3 separate regions of the Homo sapiens genome follow, and regions 1 and 3 are each reported to be linked to region 2. The links are microRNA targets in miRTarBase. Many come from high-throughput screens and were not tested one by one. Region 2 holds a microRNA gene; each other region holds the end of a gene's coding sequence.

Evidence for each region. The annotated mature microRNA hsa-miR-6722-5p reads AGGCGCACCCGACCACAUGC and lies in region 2 at 3,292-3,311, opposite strand. An mRNA with a match to its seed (bases 2 to 7 or 8) in the 3' UTR can be bound and repressed. Matches are read on the target gene's strand: a 7mer-m8 pairs with bases 2 to 8, a 7mer-A1 pairs with bases 2 to 7 and ends in A, and an 8mer does both.
Region 1: miRTarBase lists TARS2 as a target of hsa-miR-6722-5p. Seed matches in the 3' UTR shown: 7mer-A1 at 3,686-3,692.
Region 3: miRTarBase lists PFAS as a target of hsa-miR-6722-5p. The part of its 3' UTR that is shown has no 7-base or 8-base seed match.

The regions. Positions count from the first base shown.
Region 1 is chr1:150,505,593-150,511,214 of GRCh38, reverse strand. It overlaps TARS2 (threonyl-tRNA synthetase 2, mitochondrial), which reads right to left. Exons shown (of 18, transcript NM_025150.5): 17 at 5,510-5,622; 18 at 3,613-4,299. The coding sequence ends at 4,151. ECM1 (extracellular matrix protein 1) reads right to left here and starts at 3,106. Exons shown (of 10, transcript NM_004425.4): 1 at 2,936-3,106; 2 at 1,634-1,684; 3 at 1,453-1,554; 4 at 1,213-1,293; 5 at 1,033-1,113; 6 at 17-339. The coding sequence starts at 3,005. RefSeq lists an enhancer at 1-721.
Region 2 is chr9:136,743,650-136,748,199 of GRCh38, forward strand. MIR6722 (microRNA 6722) reads right to left here and starts at 3,321; the gene lies at 3,244-3,321. It overlaps LCN6 (lipocalin 6), which reads right to left. Exons shown (of 7, transcript NM_198946.3): 2 at 3,775-3,914; 3 at 2,195-2,265; 4 at 1,521-1,631; 5 at 991-1,092; 6 at 690-715; 7 at 368-493. The coding sequence ends at 1,013. It overlaps LOC100128593 (a long non-coding RNA gene), which reads left to right and starts at 2,512. Exons shown (of 3, transcript NR_033913.1): 1 at 2,512-2,552; 2 at 3,429-4,550.
Region 3 is chr17:8,267,991-8,273,612 of GRCh38, forward strand. It overlaps PFAS (phosphoribosylformylglycinamidine synthase), which reads left to right. Exons shown (of 28, transcript NM_012393.3): 27 at 543-866; 28 at 964-2,496. The coding sequence ends at 1,274. Among named protein-coding and RNA genes, the nearest start is that of RANGRF, 18 kb to the right of the region's middle.

The DNA of each region.
Region 1 (5,622 bases), not on the chromosome of region 2:
AAGAACCCAACCTTACCACAAGTTTGGCACACTCTAGGCGGTTTGTGTGGCTGCGGCAGTGGCAGCAGCGGGAATATCCAATCTCCAGGAAATTGAGGGTCTCACCCTGGCGAGTGAGGTGGGAGTAGCTGGACTGTGGTAGGTTCCAGGGACCATATACCACATGCTGACGGTTAGGAAGGCAGATTTGGTTCAGATTGTCTGGAGAAGGCCGCCCAGGGGGGAAGCCATCCAGCCGGTGGCCCCAGCCCCCTTGGGACCGGTCCTGTTGGCAGTGCTGGGCTGCATTCCAGGACTCAGGTTCTGGATGGCTCTGGTCCCCAAATGGAGCTGGCGTTCCTGGAATGGGGAAAACAGTGGGAAGCGGGGACATGTGAAGGAACCCACAAAGGCTGGATGAGCTGGGAGGATTGAAAGAATCTGGGGTGGAGGAGAAAGGGTTGGGAGGATATAGTGGAAATGAGAAAGAACAATTTGTGGCTCTTCCTTTTAAAATAACTGAAAGGAAAAGAGAAGCGAGGTGTGAAAGGTGTCAGCTCACAGCCTGCCCCCACCTCCTCCTGCTTCTCAAGGCTCGGGCTTCCTGCTCCTCTCCCCAGGGTCCTGAGCACTAAGGCAGGAGGATGGACAGACCAAAGCTGTCACTCACCCTCTCTCGGCATGGAATGGATGATTATCTCCTCCTGATATGGAAGAGGTGGGTCTACTGGGTAGAAGGAGTAAGCAAAAGCCATGTTGGGATGGCCATCTCTAGCAGAGAAAGCCTGGCTAGTTTACATGCACAAAGAAGAACTCAGCAGAGAAGCAAGTGAAAATAGATGCTATTTTTGCACATCTAATCACATAACTTTCTAAAACAGGTATATCCTCAATTTTACAGATGAAGAAACAAAGGCTTGGAGAAGTATGTAACTTACCCAAGGTTATACAACTGGTGAGTGGCAGAGCCCACCGTCTTGTCTGCCCCGAAGCCCATGCTCTGGGGGAAGGCCATGAGGTAAAGGTGGGTAAAGAAGAGAGGGAGCTGCTTACCTTCCTTCTGTTCATTGGGGTGCTGGAGAGAGGGCAGCTCTTTTTGGAGGGGGACAGCTTCCTGAGGGAGAGGGGGACCCACTGCAAGATAGGGGTGAGGGCACCAAGGAGCAGGGATCAGCCTGGTGTCAACAGGATCCATAGTGGGATAGAGGTGAGGGAGGGTGGGCAAGCGCTCACCTTCCTTTTCAGCAGGGAGTTGGGCAGGTAGCAGCTTTTCCTGTTGGAGAGGGGTGGCCTCCTGAGAGGGAGGGGGCTGCACTATAGAAGGGGGAATGTGTGAGCAGCCCACCCTTTCTCCTAGCCAGGGCTGGGAGTGGGGGCGAGGGCCTCTTCCCTCCTTTCCACCTGAAAAGTGGGATATAGGCCAGATTAGAAACCTGGAGGGTCACTGAGGAGGGCATGGGATGGTGACCTTACCTTGACTCTGTCCCTCAAAGGGAGGGCCATGCTGAGAGGAGTCAGGGTGATCCATGGGGAGGCTTCGGGATAGGGGTGGGGAGGGGGGAGCTGCGTAGCCAACTAGAAGCAAGAGGGGAGACATCAGAGCCCACAGTGCCTCCTGGAGTCCCAATCCCATGCTGCTCCCCCAAACTCTTACCTTCTTGAAAGTGCTCTGGCCTCAGCTGCCTCTGTCCTGTAGCCGTGAAGCCTGGAGGGAAGAAGGGCAAGTCAGGGGCCACTGGGAGGGCCTTCCCTGGACTTCAGCAAGGGATGGGGAGGCTGTGGAGATCAAGAGTGTAGGACAGACAAGCAAGACACGAGATGCCCCTCTGTATTCACCTGCCCCGTGTCCCCTAATCCTCTCCCAGCCCCAACACACCTAGACATGACCAGCTGGGTTCTGAGAAAGCCTGTGGCGGTCTGATAGCTCCACCTCTACTGGCTCAGAGGTTGGGCCTAAAGGGAGTATGGCATACGGGATTGGGGAGGGAGGCCCTCATTTCCTCTGCCAGTCTTTCCCTCAGGGCTGTGGGTTGTCCTCCCCAGTCTCTGCTGGGATGCGTCTCTAGCTTTCAGAGGAAAAAGTCTGGACCTTGAGCTGGTTGGAGCCTACCCAATCCACCTCCTCCACCCACCCTCCTACTCCAGGCCCTTGAAACATCTTTAGGCCTTTGGTTAAGGAGGCTTCCTGAAGGTTGAGTGCTTCCCCTTCAGCCAGTCTCAGCTCCGCCTTAGTTTAGGTCTCAATTTAGGGCCTGGGGGACTGGGACAGGCACAGGGAAGGGTCACTTGTAGGTGATCTGCAGACACAAAAGACCAGGAGCTGGGAAGAATGATGGCATGGGGCTTCACAGAGAAGTGGACAGATTTGCTGACATCCTCAGCAGCTTCCTGCAGGAGTGCCCTGGGTGGTTTTTTTCCTTTTCTTTTCCTTTTTTTCTTAGTTTCCACCCATAGCATTGAGGGGTTCCTGTTTTGTTCAGGCATCAAAGCAGATAAAGAATGTGTTTGTGCTGGATGGAGGGTGGGTCTGTGGATGGACACCCCTCAACTCCTCTAATCAGACAGGGAGTCAGTCGAGGCTTGCTGGGCCAGCAATCCGGTTTTGAGCAGCCTGGGGGCCCCTTTTCCCTCCCTTGCCTCTCCCACCAGCCACCTCCCTACATCCTCATCAGCAGGAGACCCTCACTCTGTGAACCCACCCCCCACTCAGTTGTCTATTTGACTGGGATTCTGTGTTTCTTGGCAGCAGTTTCTAGGAACCCCTCTCCTTCTGTGCCCCTGCTCTCTGCCTCCTTGGTTAAAGGCTCCACTGGCCTAGGCCCACTTTGGGCCTGCTCAGAAAAGGAAAGCCAAACGGAGAATCACTCTGCTAGTGATGAGCCGTCTGGGATGCCTGGACCCAGACCCCTGCCATGCAAGCCCAGACCCCCTCCTAAGTGCTGATCCCCCAACTCACCTCCCTCAGAGGCAGCAGAAGCAACAGCCAAATAGGTCAAGACCAAGGCTGCTCTGGCTGTGGTCCCCATCCTGGGGCAACTGACCACTGGACACTCAGAGGTGGGTCCTCTCAGGCAAGTCTGGATGTGAAGGGCCGGCCACTGAAGCTTGTCTGGTGGCTGTTACGGTTGTGAGCTTCAGGACCAGCTCTTCTTTTATAATTGTCTGGTGTGATCTCCCGCCCTCCTCAGCTTCCTGCCATGACTCAGTCCCAGCTGCTCCTCCTCTGGAAGCCACTCCTCCCAAAGTCACCCTGAAGCCTCCTCAGAGGATTGAGAAGAATGGGACTGATTAGAGGAGAACATTCTTATGACCTTCAAGAGAAACTGATTCAGAGAATCCAGGAGCAAGAGGTGTTTGAGCCCCTAGTTTGTGCCTCAGTTTCTCCATCTACAGGCTGCCTTCTGTGGAGAGGGGATCTGCCAACTCATGAACTGGGGTTGGGGAAACAGGGCACAAAGGAGTTTACAGCGGGGAGCAGGAAACCTATCCAAGGGATCTCCCCTACCAGTGTGAGGTCTGGACTGTCCCTTTTCAATTTCCCTAACTCTCTGGGACAAAAAAGAGGGAGACAAAGTGGAACATCCTTTTATCCCACCTCTCCAGAGTCAGAGATGAAGACATATGACCAGCAGCTTCCAGTTTGTATTTATTTATTTATTTATTTATTTAGAGACAGAGTCTCGCTCTGTCGCCTAGGGGGGTGCAGTGGCGCAATCTCAGCTCACTGCAACCTCTACCTCCCGGGTTCAAGCGATTCTCCTGCCTCAGCCTCCTGAGTAGCTGGGATTACAGGCGTGTGCCACCATGCCCGGCTAATTTTTTGTATTTTTAGTAGAGACAGGGTTTCACCGTGTTAGCCAGGGTGGTCTTGATCTCCTGACCTCATGATCCGTCCGCCTCAGCCTCCCAGAGTGCTGGGATTACAGGCATGAGCCACTGCGCCTGGCCCAATTTATTTTTTTTTGTAGTTTCATTCTCCTCACATCCAAACAGCTACAGCTTCCCTCCTTTTGTGGGGTCCCCAAACCAAGTCTCTTTTCAGGAGAGCAGACATGTGCCTCCACACAGTTCTGAAGTTCTGGGGGCTCCACATTGTCAGCTGGGTTGGGGTCTCCCATGTGAGGGAGGCTGATGGCACTCGCAGGTTTTTGCCTCATCTATGTACAAAGGCTCAGAAAATTTCTTCGGCATTTGGGACCCTCGTGTTCTGTAGCTCCACCAGTCGCTGCACAGCCTCAGGCAAGTCCCACTCCCCAAGGCGACGATTATCTCGAGTCCGAATGTTCACTGTTCTCTTACTTTGCTCTTTCTGGCCAACCACTGCAGGTAGAGGAAGTTTGGGAACCTCAGGGCAAATTCACCCACATGGAACAGTTTCTTTTGCTCTGCAGAAACTTGAGAGACCTAAATCTTTAGGAAGGGTGGGAGCAGAGCCCAGATATGGTTCACAGAAAGGAAGTATTCAGCTGTGTCTGCTAATACTAAATGACCAGTCCTGCTCATCCTGAGGAGACAAGGAAGTGCTTCAGTCCCCGCAGGCCTTATCGCTTCTGGTCAAGAGCCCCAGGGTCAGAGACATAAGAGTCAAGCAGAGAAAGACAAACACTGAGAACCCCACAGAGAGAAACTGTGTGTGTGTGTGTGTGTGTGTGTGTGTGTGTCAGAGACATTAGAGTCAAGCAGAGAAAGACAAACAATGAGAACCCCACAGAGAGAAACTGTGTGTGTGTGTGTGTGTGTGTGTGTGTGCGCGCGCGTGTCTGAAGGGGGTATTAGAGCAAGTGGAAGGTGGCAGGAGTGGTGTGGCCTTCACACTGCCCCGCCTCCCCCCAACCACTCTGACCCTTAGAACAGTTTCCTCTCATCAGTCCCACTCTGGCTCTTGGTGTCTGTTAGGGCTGGATTCACAGAGTGAGGGGCCTCTGCTGAGGAGGATGTATGCAGGGGCTGACTGGGCGGTAAGGGAGGGAAAGGGGCCATGTACAAGTCCCTGGGATTGCAGCACAGCTTGCTCTGGGTGCTTGTAGGGAGAGTGGGGTGTGCAAAACTCAAGAATCAGGTAATCTGGCTGAGGAGTTTCTGCTCCTCACCTTTGAGATAGAGCCCTGAACCCTGGAAAATGAAAAAGGGAGCATGGCAGTGCCAGAATTTTCTCCCTAAGGCCTTTCTCCTCATCCCTTAGGGCTGATTCCATCTAGGTCTAAAATAAACAAGGGTAATTAACGCTGTATTAACCCTCCCGTCCCTTTCTCTCTGATGCTCCCTTGGTTAATTAACCTAACAGACACCAACAGCTAGAGTGGAGTTAAAAAGAGGAAAACTATTTTGAGTGTCAGAAGTGGTTATGGGGAGGGCAGGGCAATGTGAAGGAACACAGGGCCCAAATGAGTCAGGTGTCCTGAATCCTGGCTCCTACCTGCTCAGGTAATGAGCCCCAATTAACCCAAATATGCATTACCAGACTTGGTAAACTTAACAGCAAGAATGCAGACGGCAGGTGGGAGAACATTGGCTCTGAGGTTCAGCTTACCAAACTGAAAATTGTAGTGGGCAAGCTGGGCCCGGCGGATTCTCCGGCTGAGGGTCAGTCCAGAGTCTGCATCCAGGTCACTGACCAGTCCTGCAGCCCGCAGGCTCTGCTGT
Region 2 (4,550 bases):
CCCAGGCAAGAGACACAACCCCAGCCCAGAGAAGCCTGAGCCTGGGGAGTCAGGGGCTGCTCTGAGCCCCACCAGCCACCTCTCTCTTGTCCTGGGCAGTCCTTGGAGCCTCTGGCACCCCAGCTGCGGTCCTGGTGGAGCTCACTGCTGGCTTCCTCCCAGGCTGTGTCCTCTGACCAGCCCCCGCCTCTGAGCCCGGGCCTGAGTTTGGGTGTCTGAAGACCCAGAGGGGCTCTGGCAAGGGACTGGGTTGGGCACGCGTCTTCTTTGCAGCTGGCTCTATGGTTCTGTGGCTTGGCCCTTGGTGACGACCCCCGCCATCCTCCCCGCAATTCCCCGGCTGGCCCCCAGTCAAAAGCATCCTTGGTTTGCTGTGGAATCGCTTTATTCTGAGCTGGTGCTGGGCCCCGGGAGCCGCTGAGCGAGGTGGGTGGACACTGGCCGAGGTCACAGGACCCTGTGGGCGCCATCCCTACTGGGGACGCAGCACTCACTGAAAACCAAGAGGAGTGTGAGGGGGCCCAGCCCACCATGGAGGCTCCTCCACACCCTCAGCTGCCTTAGAGACAGTGGAGCCATGAACCCCGTGGGCTTGGGCAGAGGGTCCTCCCACCCACTGTGCGTAGGGTGGCCTCCCCCACCCCCTTCCCCCAAGAGAGCCCAGGGTGAGGCTCAGGATGGCGGCTTACCAGAAGGATCTTGTGAGCACAGGTGACTAGAAGGGGAGGCAAGACTGGCTGTGAAAAAGGACTGAGCCCCCCAGCACCCCAGGGCCCCACCCACAAGACTCGCCTGCCGTGGGGACAAGACCCCCAGGCCTGACTTTGGGCAGGGGCAGGTGAAGACCCCCTCAGCCTGCCTGACTCCTTCAGGGCGACTGAGTCAGGCAGAAGCCAGAATCAACCCCAGGGTCTCTGTCACCCCATCACGCCCTGTGGGCTCCAGAACTTGCCCCAAGCCTCCCCCGAGGCTGCTCCGGTGGACACTCACGGTCCTTCTGCAGCTGGGCCTGCTACTGTGACAGGAAGCCCAGGCTCCTGCTCCACTTGGTGAAGAGCCCCATGGCCTCCTGGCTGGCTGTCTCCGTCAGACCTGGGGGCACCAGGGCAGTGCAGGGGGAAGCAACCTCTGAGAGCTGGGGAGGGGCCGGGGAGGGGCTGGGAAGGGTCAGGAAGGAGGCCACCTGCCCTGGGATGCTGGCCCCGGTCCTTCCAAAGCCACCTCCAGTGCAGCGAGCCTCAAGGTGGGGGAACTTGGCCTGCATGTGGTCCTGTGCGGCCCACCCACCACACAGCTCCCCACATGGCCCCCGAGCGGCCCACTCACCACACAGCTCCCCATGTGGCCCCAAGCGGCCCACTCACCACACAGCTCCCCACATGGCCCCCGAGCGGCCCACTCACCACACAGCTCCCCACGCGGCCCCCAAGCGGCCCACGCACCACACAGCTCCCAACGTGGGCCCCGAGTGGCCCACGCACCACACAGCTCCCTACGTGGGCCCCGCACAGCACACTTACTGTACAGCTCCACGGTGTTGAAGGGCTCGTCCCCGAACTCCAGCTGAGTGAAGATGATGGCATAGTCTCTGAAGTTGGTGGCCAGCACCCAGAGCTCCAGCACGCCTATTGCTAGGAAACAAAACCCCCCGCCTCAGGGGAGGGCAGCTGCTGTATCCATCCAGGGGCCGCTGAGCTGATGCTGGCCACAGGGACAGAGGGGCCAATTCAAGTGAGAGCCCCCCTCCCCAGGAGACCCCTCCAAGCACACCCAGAGCCCCCAAGCTTTGTCCCCCACCCCCGACCCCACCTGGTGCCAGCATCAAGGGGCTTTCAGACACTGACGGACAGACAGACAAGCACTGCCCCAGCCTGTCCCAGGTGTGAACGAGGAGCGGCTGGGTCACACCAGCCCAGCCCTGTACCTGTAGACAGCCACTAAACAGGCCCCTCGCCCTCTGCACCTATGGGGACCTTGGCTGGACCTCACTGGTGTCTGAGCCTGCTGGGAACAAGGTTCCAATCCTCTGTCCAGGGGCTTCTCTTCACCCTCAGGATGGGCAGCAATCCCAAGACCAGAACCTGTAGCCTCCTGGCTCTCGGGAGCGGAGTCAGCCCTCCGTCCCTGCCCGCAGGGGGCCTGGGGATGCTGCAGGGAAGAACGGCCTGGGTGAGGCCGTGGCCGTCAGACTCACAGGGATTCTCAAACACCCATCCGGAGTTTCGCTTTATCAGGTCCATGACACTCTGGTCACACCCTCCCAGCCTGGAAAAGAAGGGGCCTGTCACCCACTCAGGGTCAAGACCCCGGGGCCCGGTGAGAGGAGACGGAGCTCAGGAGTCCAGGCCAGGCCAGCCAGCAGTGAGGCCAGAGCTTCCATCTTCTGCCAGATGCCCCGATGCCCGGAAACCTGTTCTCGGAGAGTGGACGGCGTGGGAGTCCTGAGAGGGGCGGACACTCCCATTCACTTCCTGAGAGATCCTCAGTGCCAGATCTCCACCAGGAACGCTGAATGCTGCTGAGGACACAACAGGAGACTCGACAGACGGGAGGTTCGCCCGCGACTCGGGGGAAAGATGGGGTGGGGTGGGGGTTCGCCCGTGACTCAGGGGAAGGATGGGGCGGGGTGGGGGTTCGCCCGCAACTCAGGGGAAGGATGGGGCGGGGTGGGGGTTCGCCCGTGACTCAGGGGAAGGATGGGGTGGGGTGGGGGTTCGCCTGCGACTCAGGGGAAGGATGGGGCGGGGTGGGGGTTTGCCTGCGACTCGGGGGAAGGGGCCGGCGCTCCCTAAGTGGTCAGTCCCCAGAGTGAGCAAAACCCAGCAAAGGTGCAATGGTGTTTGCCAAGGAAGGAAACTGAGGCTGAGTCCATGCGGGAGGAACAGCAAGAAGAACTAGGAAAGCCACGTGGGAGCTGCCACCTCAGCCTGGAGCCCCTTGGTCCCAGCTCGCCCTGAGGCCAGGCCTGGCCCGGGGGGTGCAGTGGGGCCCCTGCCCATACCCTGCAGGCGCAGGTGCAGGGGGAAGGCACGCTGGTGAGGAGGGCAGGTTCTTCTCTCTGGGCCCCGTACCTGGCTCAGTGGTTCAGGCCTGGGCTCTGTCGCCAGCCTGCCAGGGGGTAGACACCCACCACGCCACCCAGCAGGCCACTCTTCTGTGAAGGGAGGCGGGCACCGACTCCTGCCCCAGCACGGCTACCCCCACAGCCCGGCTGCCCTGTAGGTGTCCCCTGTGTAGCACGGCCGCCCCACAGCCTGGCCCACCCGACCCCTGCACGCCGCCACCAGCCATGCATGTGGTCGGGTGCGCCTGCCTGAGGCCACAAGGCCAGTCTGGCCAACAGCGTCCATGACCATATTGTTTGGGGATTTATGTTATGAAAGAACCAGTGGTTCTTAGGTCCGAATGCATTATCCTCCTTTAAACAGAATTCCCGAAAAAGGCCTGCTGAGAGGACAGGCTTCCCCAGCTCTGACCACAGCCTGCAGCCCAGATGACCCAGGACAGGGATGCATGAAGGAGCATAGTCAGAGCAGTGCCCGCCGCGGTATTGAAGGTGGGAGTGCCACCTGGAGGCCCCAGGGACACAGATGTGAGTAGCTGGGCAGAGGGCTGGTGGCTCTGCACAGAGCCCAGTGGGAAAAGTGACGGGGGTGCAGAGGGGCCGTGGGAAGCCCCCAGGCCGCGGTGCCCGGGAGCAGATGTGCAAAGTACATGATGTGGCTGAGCCACAGTCCTGCCTGCGGGAAGGCCTGGCAGGACCCGCCCACTCACCCGTGCTGAGAGGACAGCGTCCGCAGGTTGTTTTCTGGAGTGAGGGTCACCACCACCCCCACGACGTTCTTCATGTCCTTCTCCATGGCAAAGCCCTTTTCCCGGGAGGCCACCGCAAGCACGTACCAGGGCCCAAGAAGCTGCATTGAGGCGGCTCCCGTTAGGGCCGCCAGCCCTCCAGCCTCCAGCCTCCAGCCTCCAACCCTCCAGCCTCAGCCTCCAGCCTCCAAACCTCCAGCCTCAGCCTCCACCCTCCAACCATCCAGCCCTCCAGCCTCCAGCCTCCAACCCTCCAGCCTCCAGCCTTCCAGCCCTGCAGCCTCCAGCCTCCACCCTCCAACCATCCAGCCCTCCAGCCTCCAGTCTCCAACCCTCCCGCCCTCCAGCCTCCAACCTTCCAGCCTTGCAGCCTCTAGCCTTCAGTTCTCCAGCCCTCCAGCCTCCAGCTTCCAACCCCCCAGACCTCCAACCCTCCAGCCTCCAGCCTTCCAGCCCTACAGCCTCTAGGCTCCAGCCCTCCAGCCTTCCAACCTCCAGCCTGCAGCCCTGCAGCCTCTAGTCTCCAGCTCTCCAGCCCTCCAGCCTCCAGTTCTGCAGCCCTCCAGCCTCCAGCCCTCCAGCCTCCAGTTCTACAGCCCTCCAGCCTCCAGCCCAGCAGCCTCCAGCCTCCAGTTCTCCAGCCCTACAGCCTCCAGCCCTCCAGCCTCCAGTTCTCCAACCCTACACCCTCCAGCCCTGCAACCTCCAGTCTCCAGCCTCCAATTCTCCAGCCCTCC
Region 3 (5,622 bases), not on the chromosome of region 2:
ATTAAAATATATTATTTATATATATTATTTATATATTATTAAAATATGTATATTTTTAAATATATATATATATATATATGTATTTTTTGAGACGGAGTTTCACCCTTGTTGCCCAGGCTGGAGTGCAATGGCGCAATCTTGGCTCACCGCAACCTCCACCTCCTGGGTTCAAGCGATTTTCCTGCCTCATCCTCCCAAGTAGCTGGGATTACAGGCATGCAAAAATACAAAAATTAGCCAGGCGTGCTGGCGGGCGCCTGTAATCCCAGCTACTTGGGAGGCTGAGGCAGGAGAATCGCTTGAACCCAGGAGGCAGAGGTTGTAGTGAGCCGAGATCATGCCACTGTACTCCAGCCTGGGTGACAGAATGAGATTCCATCTCAAAAAAAAAAAAAAAAGAAAGAAGGAAAGGAAGGAAGGAGGGAGGGAGGGAAAAGGAAGAAAGAAAAAAGAAAAGAAACAGAGCAGTTATGCCCCTTCATTCCCAATTCCCTTTTTTGAGGTCCTCCATGTCTCACCCTGACTTCCCTATTCCCTGCTAGGGTGGGCAGCTGCTGTGACCTTTCATCCCAGGGCTGGGGCTGAGCTGAGGCGCTTCCGGAAGCGGCCAGACACCTTCAGCCTGGGCGTGTGTAATGGCTGTCAACTGCTGGCTCTGCTCGGCTGGGTGGGAGGCGACCCCAATGAGGATGCTGCAGAGATGGGCCCTGACTCCCAGCCAGCCCGGCCAGGCCTTCTGCTACGCCACAACCTGTCTGGGCGCTACGAGTCTCGCTGGGCCAGCGTGCGTGTGGGGCCTGGGCCAGCCCTGATGCTGCGAGGGATGGAGGGCGCCGTGCTGCCCGTGTGGAGTGCGCACGGGGAAGGTCAGGCCCAAGGAAGGCTGGGGGAGGGCCCGAGGGTTGGGGGCAAGGGTGGGCATGAAGGACCTTGGCTCTCACTTCCCTCCTCCTTCCATCCCAGGTTACGTAGCATTTTCTTCTCCGGAACTCCAAGCTCAGATTGAGGCCAGGGGCTTGGCTCCACTGCACTGGGCTGATGATGACGGGAACCCCACAGAGCAGTACCCTCTGAATCCCAATGGGTCCCCAGGGGGCGTGGCTGGCATCTGCTCCTGTGATGGCCGCCACCTGGCTGTCATGCCTCACCCTGAGCGGGCCGTTAGGCCTTGGCAGTGGGCATGGCGACCCCCTCCATTTGATACTCTGACCACCTCCCCCTGGCTCCAGCTCTTTATCAATGCCCGAAACTGGACCCTGGAAGGGAGCTGCTGACTGGCCACAGGGGCTCACCTGGGCCCCATGGCTTTTCACCTAAGTGGGTCCTGCCCCCTCCCCCATGACCTTCAGGAGCACCCCATATTATTTCCAAAAATATCTTGGACAGACAAGGACCAAAATGCCAAAATCTCAGCGGACTCGATAATCTGCCTGCTGATGTTCCTTCTGTGGCTGTGTCTATTTTCAGTTCTGCTCTAACATGGCATGCCCTTTCTCAGCCCAGGAAACAGCATGTGGTTCAGAGAAAAGAGCGACAAGGAAAAGTTAGGACTCCTGAGGTCCGAACAGGGGCTTCTGTTGCCCACTTCACAACACCCAGTGATCACCGGTGTGCAATTGCCTCCTTGGCTCTGAGGGATGTTTTGCGCTCCCTTTTCTCATCATTGGGGTTAGCGGGTGCAGACAAATTCAGCAATAGTATGCAGATCAGCCCCTCACCACCTCATTGTTCTCATCTGGAACTGAAACTTTCTGGATTTCTCTTGAAGTGCTACACTGCACTGAATGTAAGGAATTGTTGCTTGTGGAAGTTTCTCAGCGTTTCTGGCTGTCTTAGGGCTGGCCTCAGAACCCAGCATTCCTGTTATTTGCTTCTAAATTAGCAGCTCTCTTTTTTTTTTTTTTTTTGAGGCAGTCTCACTCTGTCACCCAGGCTGGAGTACAATGGCGTGATCTCGGCCCACTGCAACCTCTGCCTCCTGGGTTCAAGCAATTTTCCTGCCTCAGCCTCCCGAGTAGCTGGGAGTACAGGCACACACCACCACACCCAGCTAATTTTTGTATTTTTAGTAGAGATAGGGTTTCACCATGTCTCCCAGGCTGGTCTCAAACTCCTAACCTCAAGTGATTCGCCTGCCTCGGCCTCCCAAAGTGCTGGGATTACAGGTGGGAGCCACTACAGCTGGCCCAGCAGCTCTGTTTCTGATAGAGGTGGTTGGGGCTCTCATCCCTAGATCCTAACCCTTTAGTATGCTGGAATTCTACTCTTCACTTACTGCATTGACTGTTGTTGATTAGTTATTATTGCAAAGCACTGTCACCGGCCTCAGGGAGTTTATGTGTAATAGAATTAAAAATAATAGCTGTGTATAACACTTAGCTCAAGCCACGCATGTGTGAGGCATTTGGTATGTATCTGAATTAATTCTCACTAAAATTCAGCAAAGGACTTGATAGCCCCTCCCCGCCTTTTCAATAAAGGATGAATGAAGGTTGACTGCATTGCCTGGGGTCCACAGATGGTGAGGGGGGCTGGGCGCACCCATACTACATCTGCTTCCCGCCATCCTGCAGTCTTACTTCCTGGAGGCAGTGTGTTGAGACTTTGTGCTGGCAGCTGTCTGTTGCTTCCTTTGCTCACAGGACTGTGGATAGAGGTCCCTTCCTCATGACTGTTCTGTTGTACACCTCAAGTCAGTTGGCTCCCTAGAATGTTCAACATCTTGATAAAAGGAGTTTGCCTGAGAATGGAGACTATAATCCCAGATCCCTGAGGGCTAGGAGAGCTGGGTGGGGGCGCTGAGCACTTCTGTGTGCTCCTGGTAGAGTAGCCACCCTGAGAAAAAACTGATAATAATGAAACAATGTTAAATGATGGCTATGGGGAAAACAACTATTTCAGAGATTTTTCTCATTGCTTTGCAAAGCGACCTACCCTGAGCAGTATGGGACTCCTCCGGATCATTTTTGACATTTGAATGTTCTTTCCTGACCCTTGGAAAGGATATATGTATGTCTTTCAAATTTATAGTATCGAACATACAATTTGGGGGCTGGTACCAAGGGTTAGATATTAAGTTTATTAAGTGCTTGATGCAAAAGTCAAAGGATGGCATGGGAGGTAACCTGGTTGGCTGTGATAAGTAAACTCGTGGATTTTGAAGGGGGAGCAGTTTCTGGTTTGGGTCGCAGTGGCCAAGTAAGACCCACCCTCCTCAGACACTATCAAGACCAAGTCCACTGGCTTTTCATCCGTGTTTTCATCCAGTAACCAAATAACCCTGTCCTTGCTGACCCCCACCCAGCTCCATTCCCACTCACCCACTCCCAAGGGCCCTCTGGTGAACCTTCCAGGCTAGCTCTCTGCTCCCTCCTTGCCTTCATGGAAAACCAGCTATCCTCTGAGAGCCACTTCTGCAGCCCCTCCAAGTGGTGGCTTTTCTTCTCAAACCTCAACCTCACATATCTCATCTTCCCCAGGCTGGGGAGTCGGGGTCCTCGTACCACTGCCAGACTGTTCACCCAGTTCAAAGAAAACCCTGCCCGTTGCAGGCTCATGCCATTCTACTACATCCCTTTCATCCAGTTCTTTGTGTTCTACTGACTTCCCCAGCGCTTCCTTTGGGAGAAGGTGCCAATTCTTCAATAGTTGATTCCTCTCTAGAAATACAATGTTCCTGCCAGGTGCGGTGGCTCATGCCTGTAATTCCAACACTTTGGGAGGCCAAGGCTGGTAGATCACCTGAGTTTGAGACCAGCCTGGCCAACATGGTGAACCCCGTCTCTACTAAAAATACAAAAATTAGCTGGGTGTGGTGGTGTGTGCCAATAATCCCAGCTTCTCGGGAGGCTGAGGCAGAAGAATCGCTTGAACCCAGGAGGCGGAGGTTGCAGTGAGCCGAGATCACGCCACTGCACTTCAGCCTGGGCAACAGAGTCTGTCCCAAAAAAAAAAAAAAAAAGAAAAAGAAAGAAAGAAATAGAATGTTCCAGGGCCGGGCGTGGTGGCTCACACCTGTAATCCCAGCACTTTGGGAGGCCGAGGTGGGCAGATCATGAGGTCAGGAGATCGAGACCATCTTGGCTAACACAGTGAAACCCCGTCTCTACTAAAAGTACAAAAAAAATTAGCCAGGCGAGGTGGCGGGCGCCTGTAGTCCCAGCTACTCGGGAGGCTGAGGCAGGAGAATGGCGTGAACCCGGGAGGCGGAGCTTGCAGTGAGCGGACGTTGCGCCACTGCACTCCAGCCTGGGCGACAGAGTGAGACTGTGTCTCAAAAAAAAAAAAAAGAAATAGAATGTTCCAGTATTTTAGCTGGGGTTGTGGCTGCTGAAAATAAAGATGACATCTCCCAGCTTCCCTCCCAGTTATGATTAAATTGTGGCCAATGGTAGAGAAAATGATGTATACAATTTGCAAGTGTTCTTACAAGAAGGGTACATTTTCCCCTTTATCCATTCTTGCTTCCTATTGTTTGGAATGCAGACACGACAGCTGGAAGTTCAGTAGCCATACTGAAGTAGCTTTGGGAATTGGTACCATGCAGAGCAACAAGATAAGAGGAAGGCTCTTCCTCTTATCTACTTGGGAGGCTAAGGTGGGAGGATCACTTGAGCCCAGGTGGTTGAGGCTGCAGTGAACTGTGATCATACCACTGCACTCCAGCCTGGGCAACAGAGCCAGATCCTGTCTCAAAAAAGAAAAAAAGATCAAAGGAGACTGGTTCTTCCAACACTGAGGAGTGCCATGAGGACAAGATAACACTGAATGTCTTGAGTGTAGGAAATGAACTTGTGTCTTGGTTTTTGCTTTTGTTTTTCATTGAGACAGAGTCTCTCGCTCTGTCTCCCGGGCTGGAATACTGGAGTACAGTGGTGTGATCTCCGCTTGCTGCAACCTCTGCCTCCTGGGTTTAAGCGATCCTCCCACCCCAGCCTTCTGAGTAGCTGGGATTACAGGCACGTGCCACCATGCCCAGCTAATTTTTGTATTTTTAGTAGAGACGGGGTTTCGCCATGTTGGCCAGGCTGTTCTTGAACTCCTGACCTGAAGTGATCTGCCTGCCTCCATCTCCCACAGTGCTGGGATTATAGGCATAAACCAAAGCGCCAGCCTATCTTGTTTAAGCACTATTAATTTTGGTGTTTTCCATCCCTTGTAACTAAACCTTACCCTATTCAACCACTCCTAACTCGCTCTCATTCTTTAAGGGTATTAGGCCCTGGTTCCCTGTCTTGTGCTTCACTTCAGCCCCTTCTGTTATCCTGTATCCATGTCAGTGACCATCCAACACTCTGAACTTTTCTACAGTGACCTTCATTCCACCTCAGCTAACTATCCCACTTGGATTTTATCACCCAGGATCGGCTCTATCTCCAAACTTATTTATTCAGGCGTCCTGTTTCCAACCATAAGGCTCTATCTCCAAACTTATTTATGCAGGTGTCCTGTTTCCTTCCAACTTTTTTTCTTTTTGAGATGGAGTCTCACTCTGTCGCCCAGACTGGAGGGCAGTGGTGCGATCTCAGCTCACTGCAACCTCCACCTCCTGGGTTCAAGCGATTCTCCTGCCTCAGCCTCCCAAGTAGCTGGGATTACAGGCATGTGCCACCATACCTGGCT